4 linked regions of the Homo sapiens genome follow. The protein of the gene in region 1 interacts with the protein of each later gene in a pairwise test. Each region holds a gene or a part of one and is shown on either strand. Other genes may lie near its edges.

Region 1 (7,034 bases):
CCAAGAGGGAGGAGAACCAGTGAAGGATGTGTAAGCGAGCAGAGTCCCACTCTGGGCAACTGGAGCTCCAACACACGGGCCAGCCTCCAGGAGACTGTGCAGGACATATTTCAAAAGTGGTCCACTCAGGGTTGAGGAAGTGGGGATGTTTATCCACCAACTCCTGCCTCTAATTGGTGACAACTTCTGGGGGATGTTAACTCCACATACTGCAGGCCTGACCAGCACAAGGACTAGAAAATGCCCTCAAGCAGGAAAACAGGCATCTGAGGTAGGAAGGCTTTTATGTATATAAAGAACTGTCCACTTCTGCTGCAGTGACTTGAGCTGAGGAGGCACCTGTAGGCACCTGTAGTAGATGCTATCCTTGTAACAGGGCAAGAATAGCATCGATTACAGGGGCTTACATTTAAAAATCAATAGATTTCTCACAACAATCTATGAGGATCATAAAAATACCAGAAAATCTGGGCTTGCATTCCCACATGGGACAGCAAGCTGCTGCCCCCTTAATGGAGGCATATGCTCCCTGATGTGCCACACTCCCCACCACTCCCTAATGTCTCTTGCCTGAGGCCAACAGCCAGGTTTTTGTTTGTTTACTTTTTAACACCCAACCTACTTCCTTCCTCTATGTTATCTGCCTGGCCCCTCCCTGAAGGAGCCTGAGTTTGTCACCTTTTAAGGAGGAGACAGGCTGCCATTGCATGTAGGCCAAGTCGTCTCGGAGACAGCATTTGATTTCCTGGGACCAAATCTTTAAATATGAAGCTGTAACAGGAACCTGGGGGCCTCTCTTGACAGCCTGCCCAGCTCTCATTATGACATTTAGCCTGTGATTGATATTGTGTGTGTCATTGAGACCTTGGCAGTTAATCTCTGGGTCGAATCTATGGAAACCAAACAGAACAGATTTGTCTTCCCTTCCATGTTGGCTGTGATCTGGGAAACAGATGCTCCTGGCCTCTCTGAGAATTAGAGAGTTGGGAGCCATGCAGAGAGGGTGCACACAGGCCGCCTTCAGGATTTGGAAAGATTACAGGTCTGTGGTTTCTGGACGGTTCCACACTTTGTTCTCTTTCCCCATCAAATCTGCGTGCTGGAGGATAATAGATCCCAGGGCTCACTCTGCGTGCCAAGCTCCTCGGGGTAGACCGCACCACTTCCTCCTTTGTCTGGAAATCCAGCCGAGGCTTTCAGCACAGAGATGGAGACGGGGATGGTTCCCTCCACAGTGTAATGAAGGAAGAATGGCCTCACCAAGGGTGAGGTCAGCTTCAGTGATCAAAGGAGGCAGACGGAGGTTTCAGAACGGAATTGACTCTAGCGTCTCCCGAAAATCACCTCTTCTGAAGCTTCCATTAACCGCAGGCAGGGTTCAAGATGGCCTAAACCACCTTTAGGTGTATGGTGCCCAGCTTCTACTCACTTCGAACAAGAAGAGTGGGTGCCATGGACGAGCTGAGCTTCACACCTTTAGACACTGTGGGCCTGAAGCAAGGAGGGCTATAACTACGTATGCTCTTAGGGGACTGAAAGGTCTGGGCTCGTTTCTGTGAGAAAGATTTCTGGCCACTCCTTAAAATAATTTCTTCCTTCCTGACTGGAAACACAGCAGGCAGGCCCCAGAATAGAGTTTGGGCCTGAATGACCACCCGTGGGGGAGGGCAGCCCACCCTGCGCCTGCAGTCCCCTCACCTTCTCCCTCCTCCAAATCAGCCTGGAGGCTCAGTCCTGCCTTAGCAGCTCTTGCTGAGCCCCTTGCACAGGCCTCACAGCCCTTAATCATTCCTTCACCCCTCAGTCACTCATTCACTCATTCCATTCATTCACTAAGCCACTTCCTCATCCAACCCATATCTCCTGAGCACCTCTTACGTGCCAGACACCAAGGCTACAGAGAGAAGCCACACTCAGGAGCCCCGAAGCAAGGTCCTCTCTCCTCCCAGCCTGCAGCTGCATTCTGGGCCAAAGACCGGGCCTCCCACCCCACTGGGACAGCGGGAGGCATTTTGAATGAGCACCCTCACTACCTTTCCCTTGACTCCGCAGCACCCTGGCTCTCTAGCCACATCTCAGACAATTATTATCAAACTTTACTAAGCGTCAGACTCACTTCGGAGCTCATTGAGATACAGATGCCTGCGCCCCTACGAGGGTGCAGCCCGGATATCTGTATTTTTGGTTAGTGCCAGGTGACTCTGACAGACGTGGTCTTCAGACCACACTTTGAGAGACTTCACAGGAGGGTCCCCTTTGCTGCCTATTGCCCTCTCCACACTTCACCAGGAAGCAGGAAGTTGTTGGAGGAAGTCACAAACCCTGGCTTCCCACAATCCCTACAGACACTCATGGCTAGCTAGTGATCCTTTAAGTCATCTGCTATGGACTTGGGAGAATCCAATTCCCCAAAGCAGTGGTCTCAACCCTTTCCTTTTAAATTTCTATCATGGAGAATTTCAAACACACCTGAAGAGAAACAGCAACTGGCCAGGTGTGATGGCTCACACCTGTAATCCCAACACTTTGGGAAGCTGAGGTGGGAGGATCACTTGAGCTCAGGAGTTCGAGACCAGCTTGGCCAACATAGCGAGACCTCATCTCTATTTTAAAAAAGGAAAAAAGAGAAACAACAACTACCTTATAACCATCATCCAGCCCCAATCACCATCACTCATAGCCAGCCCATCTCATTCACACCTACATCAATACCTTGCCCCAACATTATATTATTTATATTTTCCAACTATATTATTTTTGAAGCAAATATTTCAGTATGTTTTTCTAAAAGATAAGGCCCTGTGGTATAACGTAACTGTCCTCGGAATCTCCAGCAAGTCGGCTGATAGATATAGACCTCTTTGGTGAGATGATTCCCGCCATGGTGGTGTGCTCTTCTATTCGAAGGCATATGATGTCTGACCATCTCTTCTTATTCATACGTGGCTGGCAGTTTATGCTCAGTCTCTGGATGCAGCAACTCATCAGGTGGTGTAAAATGGTGCTTCCTTCTTTATTCATTATCTGGAATACTTCTATAAAAGAACATTTCCCGTATCAACCCAGTAGTATATAGTTTGTAAAAGAGAGAAGCAATACATGCAGATTCTTCTCCTTTATCTATCCATCTTCAAAATAAGGAGCTGGTTCCCAAACATCTTCCAACCGTGCATAATAAGTTTTGGGTTTTTTTTTTTTTTTTTATAAGGTCTCACTGTGTTGCCCAGGAGAGCAGTGATATGATCTTGGCTCACTATAGCCTCAGCCTCCTGGGCTCCAGTGGTCCTCCCACCTCAGCCTCAGCCTCCTGAGTAGCTGGGACTACAGGCATGCACCACCACACCCAGCTAATTTTTGCATTTTTTTGTAGAGATGGGTTTTGTCATGTTGCTCAGGCTGGTCTTGAACTCCTGGGCTCATGCAATCTGCCCACCTCAGCCTCCCAGAGTGCTGGGATTACAGGCATAAGCCACTGCTCCCGGACTGTTTTCAGTATTATTATTATTATTTTGAGATGGAGTTTCACTCTTGTTGCCCAGGCTGGAGTGCAGTGGTGCGATCTCAGCTCACTGCAACCTCTGCCTCCTAGGTTCAAGCGATTCTCCTGCCTCAGCCTCCCAAGTAGCTGGGATTACAGGCACCCGCCACTACACCCGGCTAATTTTTTGTATTTTTAGTAGAGATGGGGTTTCGCCATGTTAGGCAGTCTGGTCTTGAACTCCTGACCTCAGGTGATCTGCCCGCCTCGGCCTCCCAAAGTGCTGGGATTACAGGCATGAGCCACCGCGCCTGGCCTTCAGTATTATTATGACCTAAGTGTTTGATGTGTTTTGATCCACTGGAATTATTTTTATTTTTCATGTTCAAATTGTTCCAGTTTTGATAAGTGGAAGCTTCTTCAAGTTGTATTCTGAGTCCCTTTGACATGTTCCTAATGGTCTTTGAAGCCATGAACCCTTTCCTACATTCTCTGCATCCCCGGCCTGCCCCTCCTCACACTGCACCTCCCATCTCCCTCCCCCTGACACTAAGACCCTGTGCTACAGACAGCCTCAATTCATGATCCTCCTTATCTGTAAAATGGGGCTAATGATAGGGTATTAGGATAACCCTATCTCAGTGTTGTTAAGATTAAATGGGCTTACAATCATCAAGCACTTGGAATAGTGTCTGGCACACAATAGGTGTTATATAAGTATTTGTCAAATAAATAAACAAATAGCATTCACCTCCATGGTTCTCAGTCTTCCCACCTTTTCCTCCTTCTCTCCAGTCTCCTTTCCCAGGCTGACCATAGGTGCATCATTTACTCAGCTCAGGAAACAATCAATGTCCAATTCCACTGCAAATTCCTCTCCTTGGGGACAATGGAAAGTCCTCTCCCACATTCCACTGGCAGAGCCTAACAAGCTCTCCAAATGCACATTTCAGTCTCGAGGCACAGCTTTCTATCTTGGGGCATCTCTTCCAATCCCCTTGGTAAGTTAACACAGTGATGGCCAGGCTCCCAGTGTGAGAGTGTGAGCATTGCCTTCAGCTCTTCTGACAGGTTAACCCTCATGCAGCCAGGTTTCCTCCCCTCTCAAGGCTTCTGAAGTCCTGCTGATGTGCGTGTGGCCCAGACCCAGGCCCGGGCAGGTATGGCCTTGGCGATGTACTCTTTCCACTGGCTGACGGCTCCCTGCAGACACTGAGAGGGCCACAGGCCTGGAATGTCAGGAATCTTCTGGGCCTTCCTATTTTGGGTCCCAAATGGCCCAAACCAGTAGGTTTCAGTCAGATAAAGGAAAAAGTAGGAACCAAAGGAGTAAAGTCTAAAGAAAGGTGGGAAGGAACTGGCTGCTTGCAGGATTTCTTAGCTCCAGAGCCCGCCTTGGCCCACGTCCAAGGACCCCAGCTCTCCTTCTCTAGAAAGATTGGAACATTGGGGAAGTGTCATTTAACTGCCATCATGGCCTTCCTTGTTTACCTGTGTGGCCTGGGAAGAGGAAGCCGGGGCATAGCAGGTTGGGGAAACTCTTTCCAAATTTTAAGATAAGCTTATTCCCACCTCTTTTTGTAAAGCCTATTCCCTGCCTCAGTGTCCCCTGCTAACCCCCATCCTGCTTCTCTCTCATAACCAGCTGCAGAAAGGAGAGAAAATCCCTTGGCTCTAAAATGACATCTGGAGAAGTGAAGACAAGCCTCAAGAATGCCTACTCATCTGCCAAGAGGCTGTCGCCGAAGATGGAGGAGGAAGGGGAGGAGGAGGACTACTGCACCCCTGGAGCCTTTGAGCTGGAGCGGCTCTTCTGGAAGGGCAGTCCCCAGTACACCCACGTCAACGAGGTCTGGCCCAAGCTCTACATTGGCGATGAGTAAGTGCCCAGGCCCAGGCTCGCTTGGGAGCAGGCAGCAGCCCCTCCCCAGGCCACGCCCTGCGCCACCTCCTAGCCATGGGCTTTGGAATTTGTAGTCGTTCTGTGAGAACTCAATTAGTTAGGGCTGGGCTTGCCTTCACATTACAGAAAACCTAAACAAAGTCTTAGGCAAGATAGAGGTTTATTTCTCTCTCACATATAAGTGCAGAGGGAGGTGGGCTGGGGCTGGCACGGCCACTGCAGGGTCATCAGGGACTCAGACTCCTGTGTTTCTGCGCCACTGTCCTGGGGACGTGGCTTCTTCCCTCCAGGTGCTGCAGGGTCCCAGATTGCCGCCAGGACCCCAGCCATCAACTCTAGGACCCAGACAGCAGGAGGGTGGAGGGAAAGAAAGAGCAGAAGGGCATCTTCCGAAAGCAAAGTCCCATCCCAGACTTCCCCTGCCCCTAGCTGCAAGGGAGCCTGGGAAATGTAGTCTTTTATTTTAGCTAGCTATAATACCCTCAAGAATAAAATCAGTTCTTAGGTGGATGGTGCAGGAACACATCAATATATGCCTGGAAGTATGGGAGCCTAAATTTAGGTCACTGTCACCTCCTTTAGATTTTTATAACCACCATTCCCCACTCCCTACACAACTGAGATGCACCTACTGTAAATAATATTAATAATGATAACGACTATCCTTTCTTGAACACTGTATGCCAGGCATTGTGCTAAGCATCCTGCATGCATGATCTCATTTTACTCTCCTGATAACCCAGTGATAGAGGCTAATTACTCCCATTATAAAGATAGGGAAACTGAGGCACAGAGCAGTTAAATAACTGGCCCAAGTCCCACAGCTCAGTCAGTGGCAGAGAGCTGGGATTAAAATGCAGCTCTGCCCAACCCAGAGGCTTGTTCTTAACTGCTCCTCCCTCCACTCTCCCGGACTCCAGCCATGTTCCATCTCACCAAGGAGCAGATGCAGATGCTGTAGGACCCCTCCATATATTATTGTATTTATTTTTTTTCTTTTTCTTTTTTTTTCGAGACAGTCTCACCCTGTCACCCACGTTGAAGTGCAGGTTGGAGTGGTGTGACCTCGGCTCACTGCAACCTCTGCCTCCTGGGTTCAAGCAATCCTCTGTCTCAGCTTCCCAAGTAGCTGGGATTACAGGCACCTGCCTCCACACCTGGCTAATTTTTTATTTTTAGTAGAAACAGGGTTTCACCATGTTGGCCAGGCTGGTCTCCAACTCCTGACCTCAGTTGATCTGCCCACATCAGCCTCCCAAAGTGCCGGGATTAAAGGTGTGAGCCACCGTGCCCGGCCTATATGTGATTTTAATACATATCTTGCTGCTTAATACCTGGAGATAATCGTCTAGCCATAGGAAGATCCAGGGTAAGCATCCCTTGCCTTTCGTCTTTCTTTTTTTAAATTGAAAAAGTTACAAATATGACATGCTTAATTATACTAGGTTAAATGAGGTAGAGGGTTATAAAGACAAACTGCATAATCTCCCTTTGTCTCCTCTTAATTCTACCCCTGACTAACCAGTGTTAAATTTACTTGCATACTTCTACTACCTTGTGTGGGCTATTGCCAACATAAGGAAACATATACACACATATAAAGGGTTTACTTTTTTTTTTTTTTGAGATGGAGTCTCCCTCTGTCACCCAGGC
Region 2 (4,267 bases), on another chromosome or scaffold:
TGGGATTACAGGCCTGAGCCACCACATCCAGCCACATTTAGGAACTTTAGCAATTAAGAGAACTGGACTGCCCTCTCAGACCTCCAAGTGGAAAGACTTCATTGAAGTCAGCAGGGTTTCCATTAAGTGAGAAGACACACTGTTAGGAAAGTGTGGTCCTAGTAACTGCATCTTATTTCCAAGAAGCCCGCAGGCTTTCCTGGCACCTGGTCTAAGGGATCCTCTGGTAGAGGACAGGCATTCTGTCATGGTGAATAATGAATGAGAGTGAAAGGAAGTAACTTGGGTTATTGAGTTCTATGAGTATAACTCTACTGGACAATGAATAAAACATTGTGAGGGAAATTGCTCTTAGATTCTGCTTGATGCCTCCTGCAAGAAGCAGAAAGGTGTGTATCCCAGCAAGTGATTTGATCTTCTTCAACAAATTCCTTAGTATAGCAAGTATAATTTCCTCACAACCTTGTTGGGAATACAAATGTTAGGCTTGAGGACTGAGCTCATTAAACAAAAACAACTGTCTTGATGAGAAGCTAAGTTTTATTATTATAATTACAAATTAATTACAGAGAAACTGAAGCCATTCTTCATACATGACAAACATACATTTCCTCTGTGTGTACAGCACACAAGTAATATACACAAATATATTCCATGTCTGAACAAATCCTTTTTAAAACTTTAAAAGCTGGCTGGGCACAGTGGCTCACGCCTGTAATCCCGGCACTTTGGGAGGCCAAGGCGGGTGGATCACAAGGTGAGAAGATCGAGACCATCCTGGCTAACACGGTGAAACCCCGTCTCTACTAAAAATACAAAAAATTAGCCATGCATGGTGGCACATGCCTGTAGTCCCAGCTACTGGGGAGGCTGAGGAAGGAGAATCACTTGAACCTGGGAGGCAGAGGTTGCAGTGAGCCAAGATTGCACCACCACACTCCAGCCTGGGTGACAGAGCGAGATTCTGTCTTAAAAAATAAAACAAAAACAAAAAAAAAAACAACTTTAAAAGCCAAGATAGTAGCTTATTAAAATTTGAATACAGTACATGTTTCTAGTCATGAACTCTGTGGTTTCTTCTCATGACCAAGATATTCAGTTCCATGACACCATTTTCCTTGTCTACAGTAGTGATACAGAGTTTGTCAGACTTTTTTTTTTTTTTTGAGACGGAGTCTCGCTCTGTCGCCCAGGCTTGAGTGCAGTGGTGTGATCTCGACTCACTGCAAGCTCCGCCTCCCGGGTTCACGCCATTCTCCTGCCTCAGCCTCCCGAGTAGCTGGAACTACAGACGCCTGCCACCACGCCCGGCTAATTTTTTGTACTTTTAGTAGAGACGGGGTTTCACCGTGTTAGCCAGGATGGTCTCGATCTCCTGACCTCATGATCTGCCCGCCTAGGCCTCCCAAAGTGCTGGGATTACAGGCATGAGCCACCACACCCAGCCCAGACTTACTTTTTTTAAAATAAGACTACCAGAGGCCGGGTGCAGTGGCTCAGTTTGGGAGGCCAAGGTGGGAGGATTGCTTGAGTCCAAGAGTTTAAGACCAGTCTGAGCAACATAGTGAGACCCCATTTCATTAAAAAAAAAAAAAGATAAAATAAGACTATCATATAGAGCTGTGTAATGTAGTGAGCCTACATTACAAAAATATATACAACCACACAGAGAATATGTAATTACACCTTGCCTATATCCATAAATGATTTGAAGCAGGTAACACATTTGCTTTTAAATGCCATTTACAACATAGACTCTTGAATGACATGAATTTGAAAATGAAGTATTTTTTCAGACTTAAAACGTTGATGTGCTAATGTAGCTTACTTTAAAAAATGATTTCCAAGTGGGGAACCAACTACATTGGGAAAAGACAGTCAGATTCAAGGACAGTGTCATAAAATTGCTGGTTTTCCTTAGTCACCCTGACTTTATTTTTTTGAGACAGAGTCTCGCTCTGTCACTCAGGTTGGAATGCAGTGGCGCGATCTCGGCTCACCGCAATCTCTGCCTCCCGGGTTCAAGCGATTCTCCTGCCTCAGCCTCCCAAGTAGCTGGGACTACAGGCACATGCCACAGTTCCCAGCTAATTTTTGTAATTTTAGTAGAGACAGGGTTTCACCATATTGGTCAGGCTGGTCTGGAACTCCTGACCTCAGGTGATCCACCTGCCTCGGCCTCTCAAAGTGCTGGGATTACAGGCATGAGCCATCGTGCCCAGCCACTCTCACTTTAATACTATGAAAAATGCTACTTAGATTTTTTTCTATACTGCCTACATTCCAAGTTATTAAAGTTTAAAACCGTATGAAAGCATTTATGAAGATTCTGAATTGTATTTCTCATTAAAAGAAAAGAAATGTGAGTCATGTCCCGAGGCTTATGTAGAGGAGAAAGCAGAAGGCCATTGTCAGTCATTTTGAAAGTTAAAACTCAGCACTTAATGTGAATTTAGATCCATTTAAGAGAGGATTCCTCAGTTTTATGGGTTTGTGCTCCTCTGAGCATCCTCAGGGAAGTGAGAACACAAGACTTCTGTTCTTCTAAGCAAAAATCATTATCAAATGAATTTATTAAAGAGCTATCCCGAGCAAATTGCAATTGTATGTATGTAGCTACATAGGCTTCCATGGGAATTGTAAATGGCTAGCTGAGGGCACTTTCAATTGATTCAGAGTAAAACAATCTGAGGCTTGTAACAAATGTACAAAAAACTAAAATCAATGAGTAACTCTAATAGGAAGAAACTGTTTGCATTCCTTATGTTACAGTTTGCTTGTAAACTGTATGTACTTTGTTTCTTTTCTCAACACTGTTTTAAAACTCCAGCATTTTCACCTAAAAGAAAACACAGGCTCTTCATAAATACCTGTGAACAAATAAATGAAATGGTGACTGAAGGCGATTTCTGCAGTAGCTTTCTCTCAGAGATAATTATTTTTTTTTTTGAGACAGAGTCTCGCTCTGTCGCCCAGGCTGGAGTGCAGTGGCGCGATCTCGGCTCACTGCAAGCTCCACCTCCTGGGTTCACGCCACTCTCCTGCCTCAGCCTCCAGAGTAGCTGGGACTACAGGCGCCCGCCACCATGCCCGGCTAATTTTTTGTATTTTAGTAGAGACGGGCTTTCACTGTGTTAGCCAGGATGGTCTCGATCTCCTGACCTCATGATCTGCCCGCCTCAGCCTCCCAAAGTGCTGGGATTACAGGCTTGAGCCACTGCGCCCAGCTCAAAGATAATATTTTATCTTGAAGCTAGTGCATCGATTTGTAAAGCTCATTTAATTTTCTACATACTCAGGATTTGCATATTGACTTAAAATCTGACTTTATCATCCATGCCGTTATCAACTAGACAAAAAAATGTATCAAGCACCCACAGGATGCACAGATCTATCTCTGAACTGGTGTAGTGGTATTAATCTGTTCTAAGACTAGAATTACATTTTTTTTTTTAAGAAGCTACAGTCCACTGAAAAGGAAGTATTATGGTTTTTCTGAGAAGAAAAGTTGCTAAATACTGCAGCAAACTCAGGCTTTTCCTGAGAAAAGCCACAAACAAAATCATCTCTGAAATTTTTTAAGCAACAACTTCCTGAAGCGTGGAATTTATGGGGCCAGTGAGACACTAAAATTTCACAACTCTCACATACATTATCTATCTAGGACTCAGTGAAGATGTTCTTCAGATTTTTATTTAAGTTAAATTGGTAAAATACAAAAAGAAAATCTGGATTGAGTTTCAAATCATCTTAAATAGCAATCCTATGAACAATTATAACTGCAATTTCAAACACTAAGACTTAAATATACAACTTGATCATACAATTATCTCAAAACATATGATCAAAAACTTTGGTCAAGAGCTTCTTTCATGAATTCTTCAAGGACAGCTATCACATTTTTGGCTTCAGGCATTTCTTCATGTTCCACTTTAACAATCTTCAAAAGTATATCTCCACTACCACAGTTCTTTAGGAACATGTAACATTTAAACAAAGCATAATGATTCATTTCTGCCTGTCGGATAAATCTCTTCAAATTGTTTGTGTCTTGTATGGCCTAGAAAATGATTACCCAGTTAAAAATGTGTTAAGTGAAATAATAATGAAGCTCAAAAAATAACTCCTATCCAGCTGAGAACTCAACATATCTTCCTGAATTGTTTGCTTTTCATATTAAATATTTCCAAAATTTAAATTGCAGTATGCTTTGCCCTTGGTAGAAGAAGAAAATCTCCTTTTTTTTCTTGTTTCGCTCTTGTTGCCC
Region 3 (7,034 bases), on another chromosome or scaffold:
GCCAGCCAGGAGTGTGCAGAGGTGAAGGAGCTGGTCAGTGAGAGCCCTTTTCTCCCCTGGTCCCTGCCTGACTTTCCCTCACCTCTTTCCGGGGGATCTCACCCAAGCGGGAGTCTGTGTTCCTTCTGGGGACATTATCCCCTCGGCCATCAGTCCTGCTACACAAATCAAAGGTATGAGGATGGGGATCTCCGTCCCCCCGGTTACCCAATACTGGATGGAAGAACTACTCCCCAATTCTATCTCTTAAGAATAAGATCAAACTCGATAGACCTGGGCATCAACTGGGAGGAGACATTAGTGGAAGTAAATAACGAGTTACACTAGCTAGTCAAAAGTCTAGGATTCTGAGTTTTGAGCTGAGGGGTAAAGAGGAAAAAAACGAAGGTAGAGAGACCCGGGGAAAAGATTTTTTTGTTTAGAAGAAAAAAGCAATAGAAAGGAGGAGATAAAAGAAAAGTGTGGGGCAGTTAGAGAAGATCTGTGGATCCACCTCTCATCCTTCACTTTCCTCCCCAGAAAAGGACAACGATTCAATTCAGTGTAAAACACACCCACTCCACTCCCCATAATCCAGCTTCCACCCGGAGAATCCTTCCTCCTTCCTCCCAGGCTTGTACCCGCTGTGTTCCAGCCTCTTCAGGTAGAGCAGGAGATCCTCAGCAGGCAGAGCCCCCCAGCCCCGAGCCTGGTAGAGTCGCAACAGTTGAGACACCTCCATCAGCTGCCTTGGGAATGTAAGCCCATCTCCACCTGACAGACATCGCAATAATCACAGGCGTCATCCTAGGGCCTGTCTCCCCAGCCCTCAGCCCATTTCCCCAGGAATTCAGAAGGACTGTAAGTGCCTGTACTGGATCCACACTCAGGACTGTCCCTCCTTTTTTCCCTAATAAACCAGAACATGCTCACCTCTCTCTGGGGAACCACTGCTGGGACCACTGCCTTGTGAATGGGAGGAGGGAGGCTCAGGGACCCGGAAAAGACTGGATGCCATGGCTAAGGGAACTTTGGTTTTGTGGACAGGCGGTGGAATACGTGGCACTTGAGGGGCTTCCTCCCAAGATGGGACAGTCAGAGGACCTAGCAAAAGGAAAGAATGCCAAGAATCAGGAAATGGGGCATAGAACCAAGGAAGTCCCACCACCCAGCATTTATAAGGCTTTATTACTTTTGCCAGCTCCTAAAAATTCATCCTAGATAACCAACTCCGATCTTTCCTAGGCCCCAGCCCCAACCTTCTTCAGAGTTGGAACTCACCAGACTTAGGGGGCAACAGGTCGACAGAAGGGTTCTCATTGTTCTGGGGCACTGTCTCCAGCAACTGTGGGTGAATAAGATTGTCAAGTTCCCTAGGGACTGATAGAGAAAAACGCCCAGGGATCTGAGAGAAGAAGCTGGGACAAAGAGTTAGTCATAAACAGGGAATGAGGCCAGAGTCCTGGATTCCCAGAGCAGAAAGAGGAAAGGAGAAAGGGAAGAAGAAAGTGAGCTAGTCTGGGTGGAATCTCTCTTACCTGGTGCAAAAAATTCTTGAGGCCCTCCAGCTGAGCAGGCGGCAGCCCTTGCTTTAGGAGGCCCTCCCCGTCAGGTCCAGGATCTTCCTCAGGGAATGGCCTTTCTGCCCTATGATCGGGATGGAAGGCCCCAAGTGCAGAGAAGGCCCCAGCTATAAAGTGAAACAGGTATGGGTGGGTGCAAGTGTGTTCAGGGGGGAAGGGGCTTCTCCACAAATCAACTCACCTAATACTCAGAAGAAAGGGGCCTATTAAATGGAAGAGGAACATCACAGCTAAGAGAAGATGAAGATGGAGGTTTAAAGTAGCTGGAGAGGGAAGGGTTGGAGGTGACTGAGAGATGGCACAGCTGAATTCTAAGACAGAAATATAGACAGAAGAAAGCTGTGGTACTCAAACTCTAAACAAATAAATACCCTCACAAACTCCCTGAAGAATGGAAATGAGTAACACACATGTTCTGACCTCTTCCCCCGAATATGCCTCATTCTTTTATTATTCTCACATAATTAAAAAATTTTTAATTGTGCTACAACTAATCTCTCTTTTTTTTTTTTTTTTTGAGATGGAGTCTCGCTCTGTCGCCCAGGCTGAAGTGCAGCGGCGCGATCTCGGCTCACTGCAAGCTCCGCCTCCCGGGTTCACACCATTCTCCTGCCTCAGCCTCCCGAGTAGCTGGGACTACAGATGCCTGCCACCACGCCCGGCTAACTTTTTTGTATTTTTAGTAGAGACGGGGTTTCACTGTGTTAGCCAGGATGGTCTCGATATCCTGACCTTGTGATCTGCCCGCCTCGGCCTCCCAAAGTACTGGGATTACAGGCGTGAGCTGTAATCTCTTTTTTTTTTTTTTAAGAGACAGAGTCTTGCTGTGTTGCCCAGGCTAGAGTACAATGGCAACTTCTTAGCTCACTGTAGCCCCAAACTCCTTGGCTCAAGCAATCCTTCTGTCTCAGCCTCCCTGGGTAGCTGGAAATTTGGGTGTGTGCCACCACATCCTGCTAACTTTTTATTTTGTGTAGAGATGAGGTCTCACTATATGGGTCAGACTGGTCTGGAACTCCTGGCACCAAGCCATCCTCCCACCTCAGCCTCCCAACGCGCTAGCATTACAGGCGTGAGCCACTGCACCCGGCCCCATCCCTCATTTTTAATTCGACCTAGGTTGTCATGTTTGTACCACACAGAATGCCCCCATCCACTCAAATCACAGGTGACATTAAACTAGGGGTGGACACCACACCCAAGGTCAGCCAATCCAATCAGATGGCCTCTTTAAACTGGACCTAAAAAAACTGAGACACCGATGTCTCTATAAATGTCTAGAGGCTCAGCTAGAGTCAGTATCACAGCTGGTCAAACCCATGTGTAAACTGAAGTTATGAAGGGTGAGAACCTTGAATGCTGGTCTAGCAAGAAAAAAGAGCAGATGTGCAGGAGAGGTGGACCCAGGAGGCTATGCAGGCCCACAGAAAAGGGCCAGCTAGCTGCCTCAGTTCCTGATAGTACCCCGTTCCCAACTCCAGTTCTCATTAAGTCCAGCGATGTCATATTTCCATGAGATCTCAATCCCTTTATTTGGACCAATGTGAGCAGATTTCTGCTCCTTGCAACTTGCGATCACTAAAGGCATCTGGGAAACTAAATGCTCAAGTATCAGACAGAAAGCAGGGTACGAAAGAGGGAGCCAATTCATGCACAGAAGGGGAACCCCAGTGACTTCTGCCCCCAGTTACCTGTGGATGAAGTGAGGTCTGGTTTGGGCTCCAGGGGCTGGAAAGAATGCTGGCTCTGAAAAGAGGGGCCCAACAGGAGGCTAAGATCTGAGGAGGAACTGCAAAGAACAGGAGGCGCTCCAGGTAGCTCGTCCCTTGCTTCCCGGCTCTGCTGCAATACAGGCTTCAGGGCCACGGCCATGGGAGGCATAGTCCAGACCCTCCTCTCCTCCTTCTCGGGCTCCTGAGGCCCGGGGCTGGAGGGTCCAGCAGGAGGAGCCTGACCAGGAGAGAGGCAGAAAGAAGGGTCAAAGCACAGTAGGTTTAAAGAGATAAGACATGGTACAAACACTTTAATAAGATTATAAATTTCCGGATGCAGTGGCTCACACCTGTAATCCCAACACTTTGGGAGGACCGTTTGAGGCTGGCAGTTTGAACCAGGCTTGGCAACATAGAGAGATGCCATCTCTACAAAAAATTTAAAAATTAGCTGGGGGCAATGGCACGTGTGTGTAGTCCCAGCTACTCAGGAAGCTGAGGAAGGAAGATTGCTTGAGCGCTCTGGGCAACAGAGTGAGACCTTGTCTCAAATAAATAAATGATAAGTATATAAATAAATAAAATTAAAATTAAAATATCCTAATTTTTTCTTCTTTTTCTTTTTTTGAGATGAGGTCTCACTATGTTGCCTAGGCTAGTCTTGAACTCCTGAGCTCAAGTGATCCTTCTGCTTTAGCCTCCCATATAGCTGAGATTACAGGCGCACCACCACACCTGCTAGAATTTCATAATTAAAAGAAGGAAGTGGGAAGTATCAACGTATGAAGGGCTAGGAAGTGAGACTCCCTACTCTACTCTGGGGCAGGACTTGGCAACAATTTTTGGCCCTTTCCCTCATAATTAATTCAGCTGTCCCTCCACAAAACTAGTACCACGTATCATTTGTCCCCTCTTGGGACTGGGAGACTAGAGTTATGCCCAATGGAATGGGGCCAGTCTGAGTGAGCTATGGCCATGGAAAAAAGGATTTATTTTGCTGAGGCAGTTATTATTTGTAAAGTCCACCGATTTTTCTCCCCTGATGTAGGCCTTAGGAGCTGAACTTAGTACTTCCCTTGGGAGGGAGCTAGATTTCCAAAGAAGGAATCTAGAACACAGTTCTTGCTGGGCATGGTAGCTTATGCCTGGAATCCCAGCACTTTGGGAGTTAGAGGTGGGAGGATCACTTGAGCCCAGGAGTTCGAGGCTGCAATGAGCTATGATCTCACCAGTACACTCCAGCCTGGGCAAGAGTGAGACCCTGTCTCAAAAATAAAAATAAAAATAGAACATAACGGAGAAGCTTAGCTCAAGGGGTAAGGCGTACTGGAGGGTTGGGCGGCGGGAGAGTGGTGCTGAGCAGCTGGTTGGCCTCATCCCAGTGGGCCTGCAGCATGGCCTGCAGTCTTTCCACCAGCTCCACCCGCTGCTCCTCCAGCTGCTGGTTCCCACTCTGCAGTTCGCACACTCGCGCTTGCTCCCGGGCCAGTCTGAAGCAAAGAGAGAAGAAGTGACTCAGGGCCTTTAAGGAAGCAGATACTTGGGAGCTAAAAAGAGCCAGAAGGGAAATGTTGGACATCTGATATTCTGAAAGGAGCTGGGGCCCATGTAGAGGAGGACAGATCAATCAAGGGAGCAGCTCTTCACCGTTCCCAGTTTGGGCTCTACCCATGGGAAAGGGGCTGGGGCCTGAAAGGGGCACTCTGGGGACCAGGACCTGAGCTCGTAGTCCTCAGCCACCTGCTGTTGCCGTTCCTCTCGTTCTGCCATTTCCACCTTGAACTGAGCTAGCTGACTGGCCAGCTCCTGCTGGTGCTGTCCACTCAGGTCCTGCAGCTGCTTCCTACAGGGCACAGGTAGGAGAAGAGGCCTGAGACTGGAGACAGAAGAAGTGACCAACTGAGAAAAAGACATCATGTGTGCACATGACAGTGACCCAGATAGCCAGTCAGCTAGCCTGGCCATGGCACAGGAAGCGGCAAGGACAAAGCTGGGGTCTTAGGATGGGTTCCTCAGAAGCAGAGACTTAAATAAATTTATTTCGGAAGCAGTTCCAGAAAATCTCGGCAGCAGAATGGGTGTGAGGAGAAGTGAGGCCAGGCTGCGAGGAGGCTCAGTCCGACAGAGCAGCTCTGGAGACAGCACAGGTCATACCTCAGCACTGTCCCAGTGAGGGAGCTGGACCATCTATCATTCTGCACCCATCAGTTCTTGGTTAAGGGCTACTCCCTATGGGATGAAAATTCCCAGGCACTTCTGGCTCTCCATGAACGCGTGAAGGCAGCCCTCCCGAGAGAGACTCAGGTCCCAGCTGATGGGAGTTAGCGCACCCTGGGAGTCACAGTGCTGGACCATGGCAAAGGGATTGAAGGGAACACAGGCCTGGCACTAACGATACGTGCTGTGGCTGAGAGAAGTGACACCCAGTGAGTCCCACGTACCTGTGATGTTCCCTGAGGGAGGCTGCTTGCCGTAGGCTGCTCTCCTGAGCCTGCGCCAGCCGCTCTGTCACCCGCTGCTCCAGCTGCACAGCCAGCTCCGACTCCAGCTGGATCCGCTGGCTTTCATACCGGGCCTGGAGTGAAGGAAGGTGGGATAACGGCCCAAATCTGTTTGGGCTTAGAAGAGGATGGAGGATATAATGTAGACAAAATCCAGTACCAACTTTCCCCTCATATGAGATGAAGAACAAGAATTTTGCCTCAAGGAGTGAAAGAGGTTCCCTTTCCTTATTAAGATATTCGCACTTTAAACATACATCAAAGTGAAAATGACTATGGGTGAAAGACATAAATTTCTTAGCTAAAATAAATGTTCGACAGAGCAATCAAATCCATTCTACGTGTCTGATATAACATACCCTGAGGCTGGGCGCGGTGGCTCACGCCTGTAATCCTAGCACTTTGGGAGGCCGAGACGGGCGGATCACGAGGTCAGGAGATCGAGACCATCTTGGCTAACACGGTGAAACCCCGTTTCTACTAAAAATACAAAAAATTAGCCGGGCGTGTTGGCGGGCGCCTGTAGTCCCAGCTACTTGGGAGGCTGAGGCAGGAGAATGGCATGAACCTGGGAGGCGGAGCTTGCAGTGAGCCGAGATCGCGCCACTGCACTCCAACCTGGGAGACACAGCGAGACTCCGTCTCAAAAAAAAAAAAAAAAAAAAAAAAAAAAAAAATACCCTGAGTAGAGTACCTGAAAGCCAGTAGACATTCAATAAATGGCAGTGCCTCTTCCTCCTTAAGCAGTCAACCTATAAGTGTCTCCATTTTCTCAGCCACAGTCCTTCAACTCACTAAAATCTGATTTCCACGTATAGTATTTTACTATAAAGAACTCAACCTCTTTTTTTTTTTTTTTTTTTTTTTTGAGATGGAGTCCCTCTCTGTCACCCAGGCTGGAGTGCAGTGGCGCGATCTCGGCTCACTGCAACCTCTGCCTCCCGGGTTCAAGCAATTCTCCTGCATCAGCCTCCCAAGTAGCTGCAACTACAGGTGCGTGCCACCACGCCCAGCTAATTTTTTGTATTTTTAGTAGAGACGGGGTTTCACCGTGTTAGCCAGGATGGTCTCAATCTCCTGACCTCGTGATCCACCCGCCTCAGTCTCCCAAAGAGATTACAGGTGTGAGCCACCGCGCATGGCCCAAAGAACTCAATTTCTAAATCCAAATAGTGGTTATTTCTCAGCCCCTACTTCTGAGACAGAGTCTTGTTCTGTTGCTTAGCCTAAAGTGCAGTGGTGTGATCATGGCTCACTGC
Region 4 (7,034 bases), on another chromosome or scaffold:
ATCCTACCACATTGGGCTGAGGGCCAAAGTCCATCCCCAGTAGGGGTCTGCTTACCAAACTTGACAAACAAGACTCCAGTGGAAGAAACCACCTCCTTGCCGTTTGTTGCCACGCACTGGAAGTAGCCTGTGTCTGTGGTGTCGAGGTTTCTAATCCGCAGCCGAGAGCCATAGATGGTGGACCGAAAGGAGAGCCTCCGGGGCTCCTGGACCACAGGAGCATCATTTTTGAACCAGCGGATGGTGGGAGGTGGATTCCCAGAGACTTTGCAGTGCAGTTCTGCTGTCTGGCCCAGAGACGTGGTGATGTTATTCATTGGTTCATCGAGGGTCAGGTAAGAATCTGTGAGCACAGAGAGGAGGCAGGTGAGAGGGGCAGACAGCTTGAGAGGGCTTCCAAGCAGCCAAATCCCCTCCAGTGTACCCTTGGGATCACAGAGAGGCTGAGCAGGAGAGGCAGGTGAGACAGACAAGGAAAGAAACAATCACATTGATTAAGACCAGAGGACTGCTAAATAACCACCCATAGAGCCTGCTGCTTGGAAGAAAATTTGTCACTAATCAGAGTATAGAACCCAAAGTCTCCAAAAGACTACATGGATAAGCTTTTGTGCTTCAGATCAAAAAATCATATACACTCCTTGTTCCAAATTCCAGCATAGCAAAAGAGAGAAAATAAAGTTCACCTCAAATCTCCCCACCCAAAAATAACACCATTTTTAACATCCTGGCAAACATCCTTCCAGTTTGCTCACTTTTGATAAGAAAGAAAGCATCAAAAATTGGAAAAGTAGGAGCAACACATTCATATCCACATGGCACAAGATCAGAAAGGATGCCTGAAACTTTCATGTTACTGACAATATAAGGTTATGAAGGCCAGGTCAGAGGCAGACAGAGTAATAAAGCAATGGACATTTCCATAATATTACTGATATCAACCATAACATGTTACAATATGTAATTATTTTGATCACATATATATAGATTAATTCATATACAATACTGTGCAATATACAGATCTTAGTTATACAGTTCTATGAGTACAGGCAAATGCATATACTCATGTAACAAATGTCCCTATCTTGATAGAACATCAACAACCCAGAAAGTACCCCCACAATCTTTTGTAGTTGGTCCCTGCTCCCAACCACTCCCTCCCACCCCACCTTGAAGCAACTAAGGTTCTAATTTCTATTACCATAGGTTAATTTTGCCTGTTTCAGAACTTCATATAAATGGAATCATGCTGCATGTATATTTTGCTTTGGCTCCTCTTAAGATTTATTGCACTATGAATTTTAATAACAAAATAAGTTTTATTTAAGCTTATTCTTCAATCAAGTATTTAAACATCAATATTAATATTAGTTGTAGAATCCAATTGCAGATAAAATTATTTATTTATTTTTAATTAAGTTTGATTTCTTTTAAAAACGTGCTCTGTTATTCATGGGTAGGGAGCTTTCTTTGGTTTCATTTTTCCTAAGCACCCCTTCTTGGATAGATCCCCTGCCATACTTTCTCATTGTCCTATGTCCTTCCGTAGGTCCAAGTCTGGGGTAACTTGTTCAGCAGAGCTATCAGCCCCATAAGGGCAGGGATGGGAATGTTCTGGTCATCACTGCATCCTCAGTGTATACTACTGTCTAGCAGTGTTATCCACCAGAACTTTCTGCAATGATGGAAATGTTCTATAATCTGCACTGTCTGATTGATAGCCACTAGTCACACAGGGCTTACTGAATGCATGAAACATGGCTGGAGCAACTGAAAACTGAATTTTTAAATTTAAATAGCCACATGTGGCTAGTGGCTACTGTACTGGACAGCACAGGTAGAACGCCACAAATTTGTTGAATTTAATGGAAGTTTATTGAAAAGTAACATTTTTCTGAGCTATTTAACCGGGTAATTTAATTGCCCAAATGTCTGTAAAATGAGTTCATAAATGCTAAAAATAATTGATTCATTATTTGCTTTAATTTCCGTCCCCCCAAATTCAGAAGGAACATTGTTAATGTCTGGGCAGCCTCACAGGAGTGTGTCTCACATATGAATGGCATTTATCACATGTGCAGTAGGAAACAGATTAAGCATGACTACTGCATTACCATAATGACACTTTCCATCTCACTTAAGCCAATGAATAATTATCCTTCACAACAGATTCATGAGCCCATAAATGATCTTGCTAATGCTTTGCTTCCTAACATTTATATTTTGATCTCTATCTTTGGGCATGTTTCTCCAATCTATATACATCTATACTCAATCCACGAATGTGTTTGCTCATGGATATAAGCACATATGTTCCTAAGATGTTTGAGGTATGCCCAGAAAGGAGGGAGACTAATTAGCAGATGGCTCTATGGAGCCATTATCATGCCTTTATAGCCCCATATCATTCATTGAGAATAGATAACTATGTACCCTTTGTGGAGAGAAACTTAGAGATAGCAATCACATAACAATGCCACTATAAGCATAGTGATTAATACTGCATTGGACAGGTTCTGGAATTTGATTGGCTGGGTTTGAATTCAGGTCAGCCCCTTGCCTATCTGTGTGACTTTGGGCAAGTTACTTAACCTCTTTGTACCTCAGTTTAACCAACGGAAAAACCAAAATAATAAACAGGGCTCCATCTGAGGGAACTGTTAGAAGAGGATTAAAATGAAAGTGAGTGACATCTGGGAAGCACTTCAACCAGTGTTTGGCAAAAAGTAAGCACTCAAAAATGTTAATTAATGTTGTTACTATTGTTTTTATAACAATAACTTCTGTATACCACTTTTCACATGACAAAATGTTTTCACAGCCTCTGTCTCCTGTTATCCTCTAACAATCTAGAGAAGTAAGAAAGGCACATTAATTACTATGATTTCCAGTGCAGATGAGGAAGTCATGTCTCAGAGATTAGCAGACTTGCCCCATGGTTACTCAGGAAACTGCCCAAAGCTTCCATCACTAATGGCCTTTAATCCTCAGGCTCAGCCAAGCACCTAAAGAAAGTCCATTTGAGGCAGCTGGCCAGTTCTGGACCAATAATGGACTATTTTGAAATCCTACTATATGCTAGGGCTTTACTTTAGTATTCACCTGTATGCTAACTTTGCAAGGGAGAAGTCATTATCACTGTTTTACAATGAGGAAACCTAGGATCAGAGTGGTTTAGTGACTTGCCGGAGGCCTTGTGGCAGAACTGAGGTCCAATTTACATCTCTCTGGCTGCCAAGCCCAAATCTTTTCACTCCACCAGTCTGCTTTGGTACCATGAGACCCATTGAGGGCTGAGATTTGGTACCATGAGACCCATGGAGAGTTGGAATATCTCCCTAAACCAAGGTGGGCCGTGGACACACATATACCCACAGGGTTGTGCTCTTCCCCTAACTTCAGCCAAGACTGTCTGGTTAATGGGCCTAAGCTTTAGCCATGGGTGCTGGCTGATGTTCTTTCTGGTTTCCCTCCAGAGGCCAGGCACCTCACCTGATCTGCTCTATAAAATATCTATCTAAAAACAACATGAGGGTTGCAGGGCACCTTGAAATCAGTGTAGTAGATGACCCAAGCAGTGTGTTTCCAGAGAGAACAAAAGAAATGTAAATAGATCTTTGTGTTTACTGAACAAAGGAGCCTTGCCACAAACAGGGAATTTGGTTTTAACTTTTCACTGACGAAGAAGAAGTTTCAAATTTGTTGGCCATCTGTAGCTGCTTACTTAGTAAGCAGAACGAGAACACCTGGGCATCCCAGCAAAGGTGTCCAGTCCAGAGGGAATTCACACTAGACTCAAGTAGCAGTTCTGCCACTCTCTAGCGATGTGTGTCAGACCATCACTTCACCTCCCTGGGCTTTGGATTCATAATCTGGGCCTTTGGGGTTGGGTCTGCTTCTTCTGAGACAGTTTGTGTTTCTATATGGGCAGCTGCAGAACAACTGGATGACAGGCAGCAGGTGTCCAGTGAGCTTGAATGCCAGACAAAGCAATCTGGCTTTTATGTGTAAACCTGGCTGTTTGTACCTTTTTCAATGGTTTGATTCAGTAGCTCTGATGATATGTGCTTGAGCTATGGAAGATTTCTCATCTTTTTTTCCCTTCTTCCCTAGACTGCAAATGTCAAGATGGCAGATGGTAAGTGGGAGGTAGGGTATAGTCTGGCTTAAGGGAAAAGTTCCAGTCCCACTGAATCCACCTCTAGCTCTGTGTCCCTGAACAAATGATGCCTTCCAGTGCTAATACTAGTAATAATGATGATGATGACACTGACAACAATAATGATTTCATAATGATGGTGGTAATACCTAACACCTAAATGGTATTTATCATCATGACAGTTATTGTTATGAACATTTTACACATGGAAAACAGAGAGGGTAAGGCACAGAGAGGGTAAGAAAGTTGTCCAAGATCACACAGACAGTAAGTAGAAGTGAGATTTTAAACAAATTATTTTGGCTCCAGAGTCCATGCTGTAGGATAGAAGTTCTCAAATTCTTTGGTCTCAGGACTCCTAGATAATCCTTAAAATATTGATGCCACTGAGGGGAGAAAGTTTTAAAATATTTGTTTATTAACCTATTTAAAAATAAAAACAATCCCATTGCTTAACATAAATATTTTAATAAAATATTTAGTAAAATAATATTTTCCACACGCGTATACCAAAAATAGTGAGAAAAGTGGCATTTTTTTTTTATTATTGAATATCTATTATTGTCTTAAAACCAGACAGCTGAAGCCTCCTGTTTCAGCATTCAATCTGTTGAGGTATGTTGTTTTAGTTGAAGAAAATCTGGCTTCGCACAGTTGGAAAAGGGAAGGGTTTTTAATAGTCTTTCAGATAATTTAGGATATTCTTCTTTGATACTACACCAAAATTCGATAGGTGGTAGTTTCTTAAACGTTGGTTGCAATGTGAAATCTGAAATCATATCAATAAACTTTTCATAATCTATTAAATTATAATGGATTGATTTATCTTGTACTTTGAATGGTTATTCTACCTACATACGATTTTGTAACATCATGCATTGCCTGTTTAGAGAACACTGGTTTACTGAGTTACGTTCGTTTTCAAAATGTGGACACCCTTACTTATCTAATATAGAAAATTCAAATGCATTAATATCACCACCAGTGCCATCAGTTATGATTGGGAAGAAGTTGTCAAGCTCGTGATGGTGGCTAAAAGTTTCGCAAAATTCTAACTTTTTCTGGAAAGTTCAAATTTTATTATTGGCAATTAATACTACTGTTTCCTTCAAGCGGCAGGTTCATTTTCCTCATTTTAAAGAATATTCAAGAATAACTAACCATAATTTTTCTGTCGGTCATTCTTTAAAGTAAAAGTGGCTAGTTCAGCTCAGAACTCAAATGCTTTTCTTTGAGACAGTCATAGTACTTGGCAGGAGTACTTTACGTATACTGCCCATCTGCCATATGAAATATTAAAAATCTATGTATTCAAGGGTCAAGATTTAATACAATTAATAATTTTTACTGCTCCATGGAAGATATTCTTAAGTGCAATTGGCTTTTTTTTTCTTTTCAACTACAAGTATATGGCAGTGGAATGTACAGTGACCACTAGTTTGGTACCGTTGGTGCCATTGTCTGAATTTGTTTGAGCAGTTTCACCCACCATTGCTTTTGCACAATTAGGATGGGTAAACCGCAGTTCAGAGGACTTAACAGCCTATCCCAGAGTTCACAGCTAATAAAAGGCAAAGCCAGGATTTGGACACCAAGCCCAGCGCTGTTTCCATCACACTCCATAGCTGCCCTTTCCCAGCCCTCAGGGTCCTAGACTGGTGTAAGGCTTTCAGAACAAAATGGGTTAGCTCAGGCCCTGAACGGTATGAGTCAGAGAGCAGAGTGGCTTGGATGGCATGTTTTCTATTTCCGAACAAGCAGTTTGGGGCTTTGGGGCAATCCCAAGCGATTGTGTCAGATCTGGGCAAAAGTTTAGGACTCTGAATTAAAAAGGATTTGTTACCTTTACAATGTAGGAAAATGAAATGCCAGTATCCTTTTAGTGCCACCATCTTCTCCCATTAACAATGGAAAGTGATGATCATAGCTAACATTTTTCTGAGCATTTACAAAATGCCAGGCACTATTCTGAGCATCTTACACACTTTAATTTAAACTTGACAACAATCCTATGAGGTAGACTCTAAAACTGACCACATTTTAGAGATAAGGAAACTGAGACACAGAGAAGTTAAGGAATTTCCCAAAGTCACACAGCCAGAAAGCGGCAGAGCCAGGACCCAAACCCACGCCTTTGAACAGCAGAGACCATATTATGTTCTGATGCAATCAGATTCCCAATCAATCCAACCTGTAGTCTTTCATTGTCCTTTGCACCACTCATAACCTGAACTAAAAAATATTCTTGCCTTTTTATGAGTCCATCAAGCATGTGACAATACCCACTGGTACTGAAAACAACTAAATCACCACTAGTTGCTTATGACGTAACTGGAAGTCATCATTGAGAATGAGCTTTTTAAATACAGTGCAGGCATGGTCTGTACTGAGGCTTAATGAACCAGAAAAAGCAAACTGCAAGAAAAAAGTTATTTTATGACCTCTCTGGGAATTGAGACTCTATTTCCTCCTTTTTACATTTTTTGTATTCCCCTCAGCACTTCATGTGTTATTGTGAACTTCATAGGCATTTAATAAACGCTGGTTGATGAAGTAAATGGAAGGCTCAAGTGAATTTTAGGCAAATTAGCTTTGGAGACACCCCATTTATTATTTACCCACTTGACAAGATGTCACATCCACAAATCCACAAATCCTTCCCAACATTTATTACTTAATTTTCAAAGTGCCCCCATCTCTCCTCAGGGAGGAAGGTGGGGCCAAGTGTTATATTCCCATTTTGACAGGTGAGAGAAACTGAGATATAAAGAGTTGAGCAGTCCATTGCCATGGCAACCCAGCCAGTCAGCCGAGGAGCCAGTCACAATTAGGTTTAGGGCCTGGGTCTTGGTATCAAAAGAGGCACATGCCAAAA

Evidence for each region.
Region 2: the proteins of DUSP29 (region 1) and C17orf75 interact in binary tests that used the Homo sapiens proteins (3 or more experiments, as listed by UniProt).
Region 3: the proteins of DUSP29 (region 1) and CNTROB interact in binary tests that used the Homo sapiens proteins (3 or more experiments, as listed by UniProt).
Region 4: the proteins of DUSP29 (region 1) and ROR1 interact in a two-hybrid assay, tested with the Homo sapiens proteins (one study listed by BioGRID and IntAct).

Annotation. Positions count from the first base shown.
Region 1 is NC_000010.11:75,056,638-75,063,671, reverse strand, and holds part of DUSP29 (dual specificity phosphatase 29), read left to right. Parts: intron 1-5,123; 5' UTR 5,124-5,157; coding exon 5,158-5,357; intron 5,358-7,034. UniProt on the Homo sapiens protein: Dual specificity phosphatase able to dephosphorylate phosphotyrosine, phosphoserine and phosphothreonine residues within the same substrate, with a preference for phosphotyrosine as a substrate. Involved in the modulation of intracellular signaling cascades.
Region 2 is NC_000017.11:32,327,919-32,332,185, forward strand, and holds the end of C17orf75 (protein Njmu-R1), read right to left. Parts: intron 4,061-4,267; coding exon 3,845-4,060; 3' UTR 523-3,844; downstream 1-522. UniProt on the Homo sapiens protein: As component of the WDR11 complex acts together with TBC1D23 to facilitate the golgin-mediated capture of vesicles generated using AP-1. May have a role in spermatogenesis.
Region 3 is NC_000017.11:7,942,206-7,949,239, reverse strand, and holds part of CNTROB (centrobin), read right to left. Parts: intron 5,850-7,034; coding exon 5,716-5,849; intron 5,118-5,715; coding exon 4,992-5,117; intron 4,765-4,991; coding exon 4,602-4,764; intron 3,513-4,601; coding exon 3,254-3,512; intron 1,874-3,253; coding exon of another isoform or gene 1,740-1,873; exon of another isoform or gene 1,680-1,739; intron 1,670-1,679; coding exon 1,518-1,669; intron 1,325-1,517; coding exon 1,261-1,324; intron 1,084-1,260; coding exon 913-1,083; intron 754-912; coding exon 621-753; coding exon of another isoform or gene 555-620; intron 159-554; coding exon of another isoform or gene 156-158; coding exon 83-155; intron 1-82. UniProt on the Homo sapiens protein: Required for centriole duplication. Inhibition of centriole duplication leading to defects in cytokinesis.
Region 4 is NC_000001.11:64,043,000-64,050,033, reverse strand, and holds part of ROR1 (inactive tyrosine-protein kinase transmembrane receptor ROR1 isoform 1 precursor), read right to left. Parts: intron 344-7,034; coding exon 56-343; intron 1-55. UniProt on the Homo sapiens protein: Has very low kinase activity in vitro and is unlikely to function as a tyrosine kinase in vivo. Receptor for ligand WNT5A which activate downstream NFkB signaling pathway and may result in the inhibition of WNT3A-mediated signaling.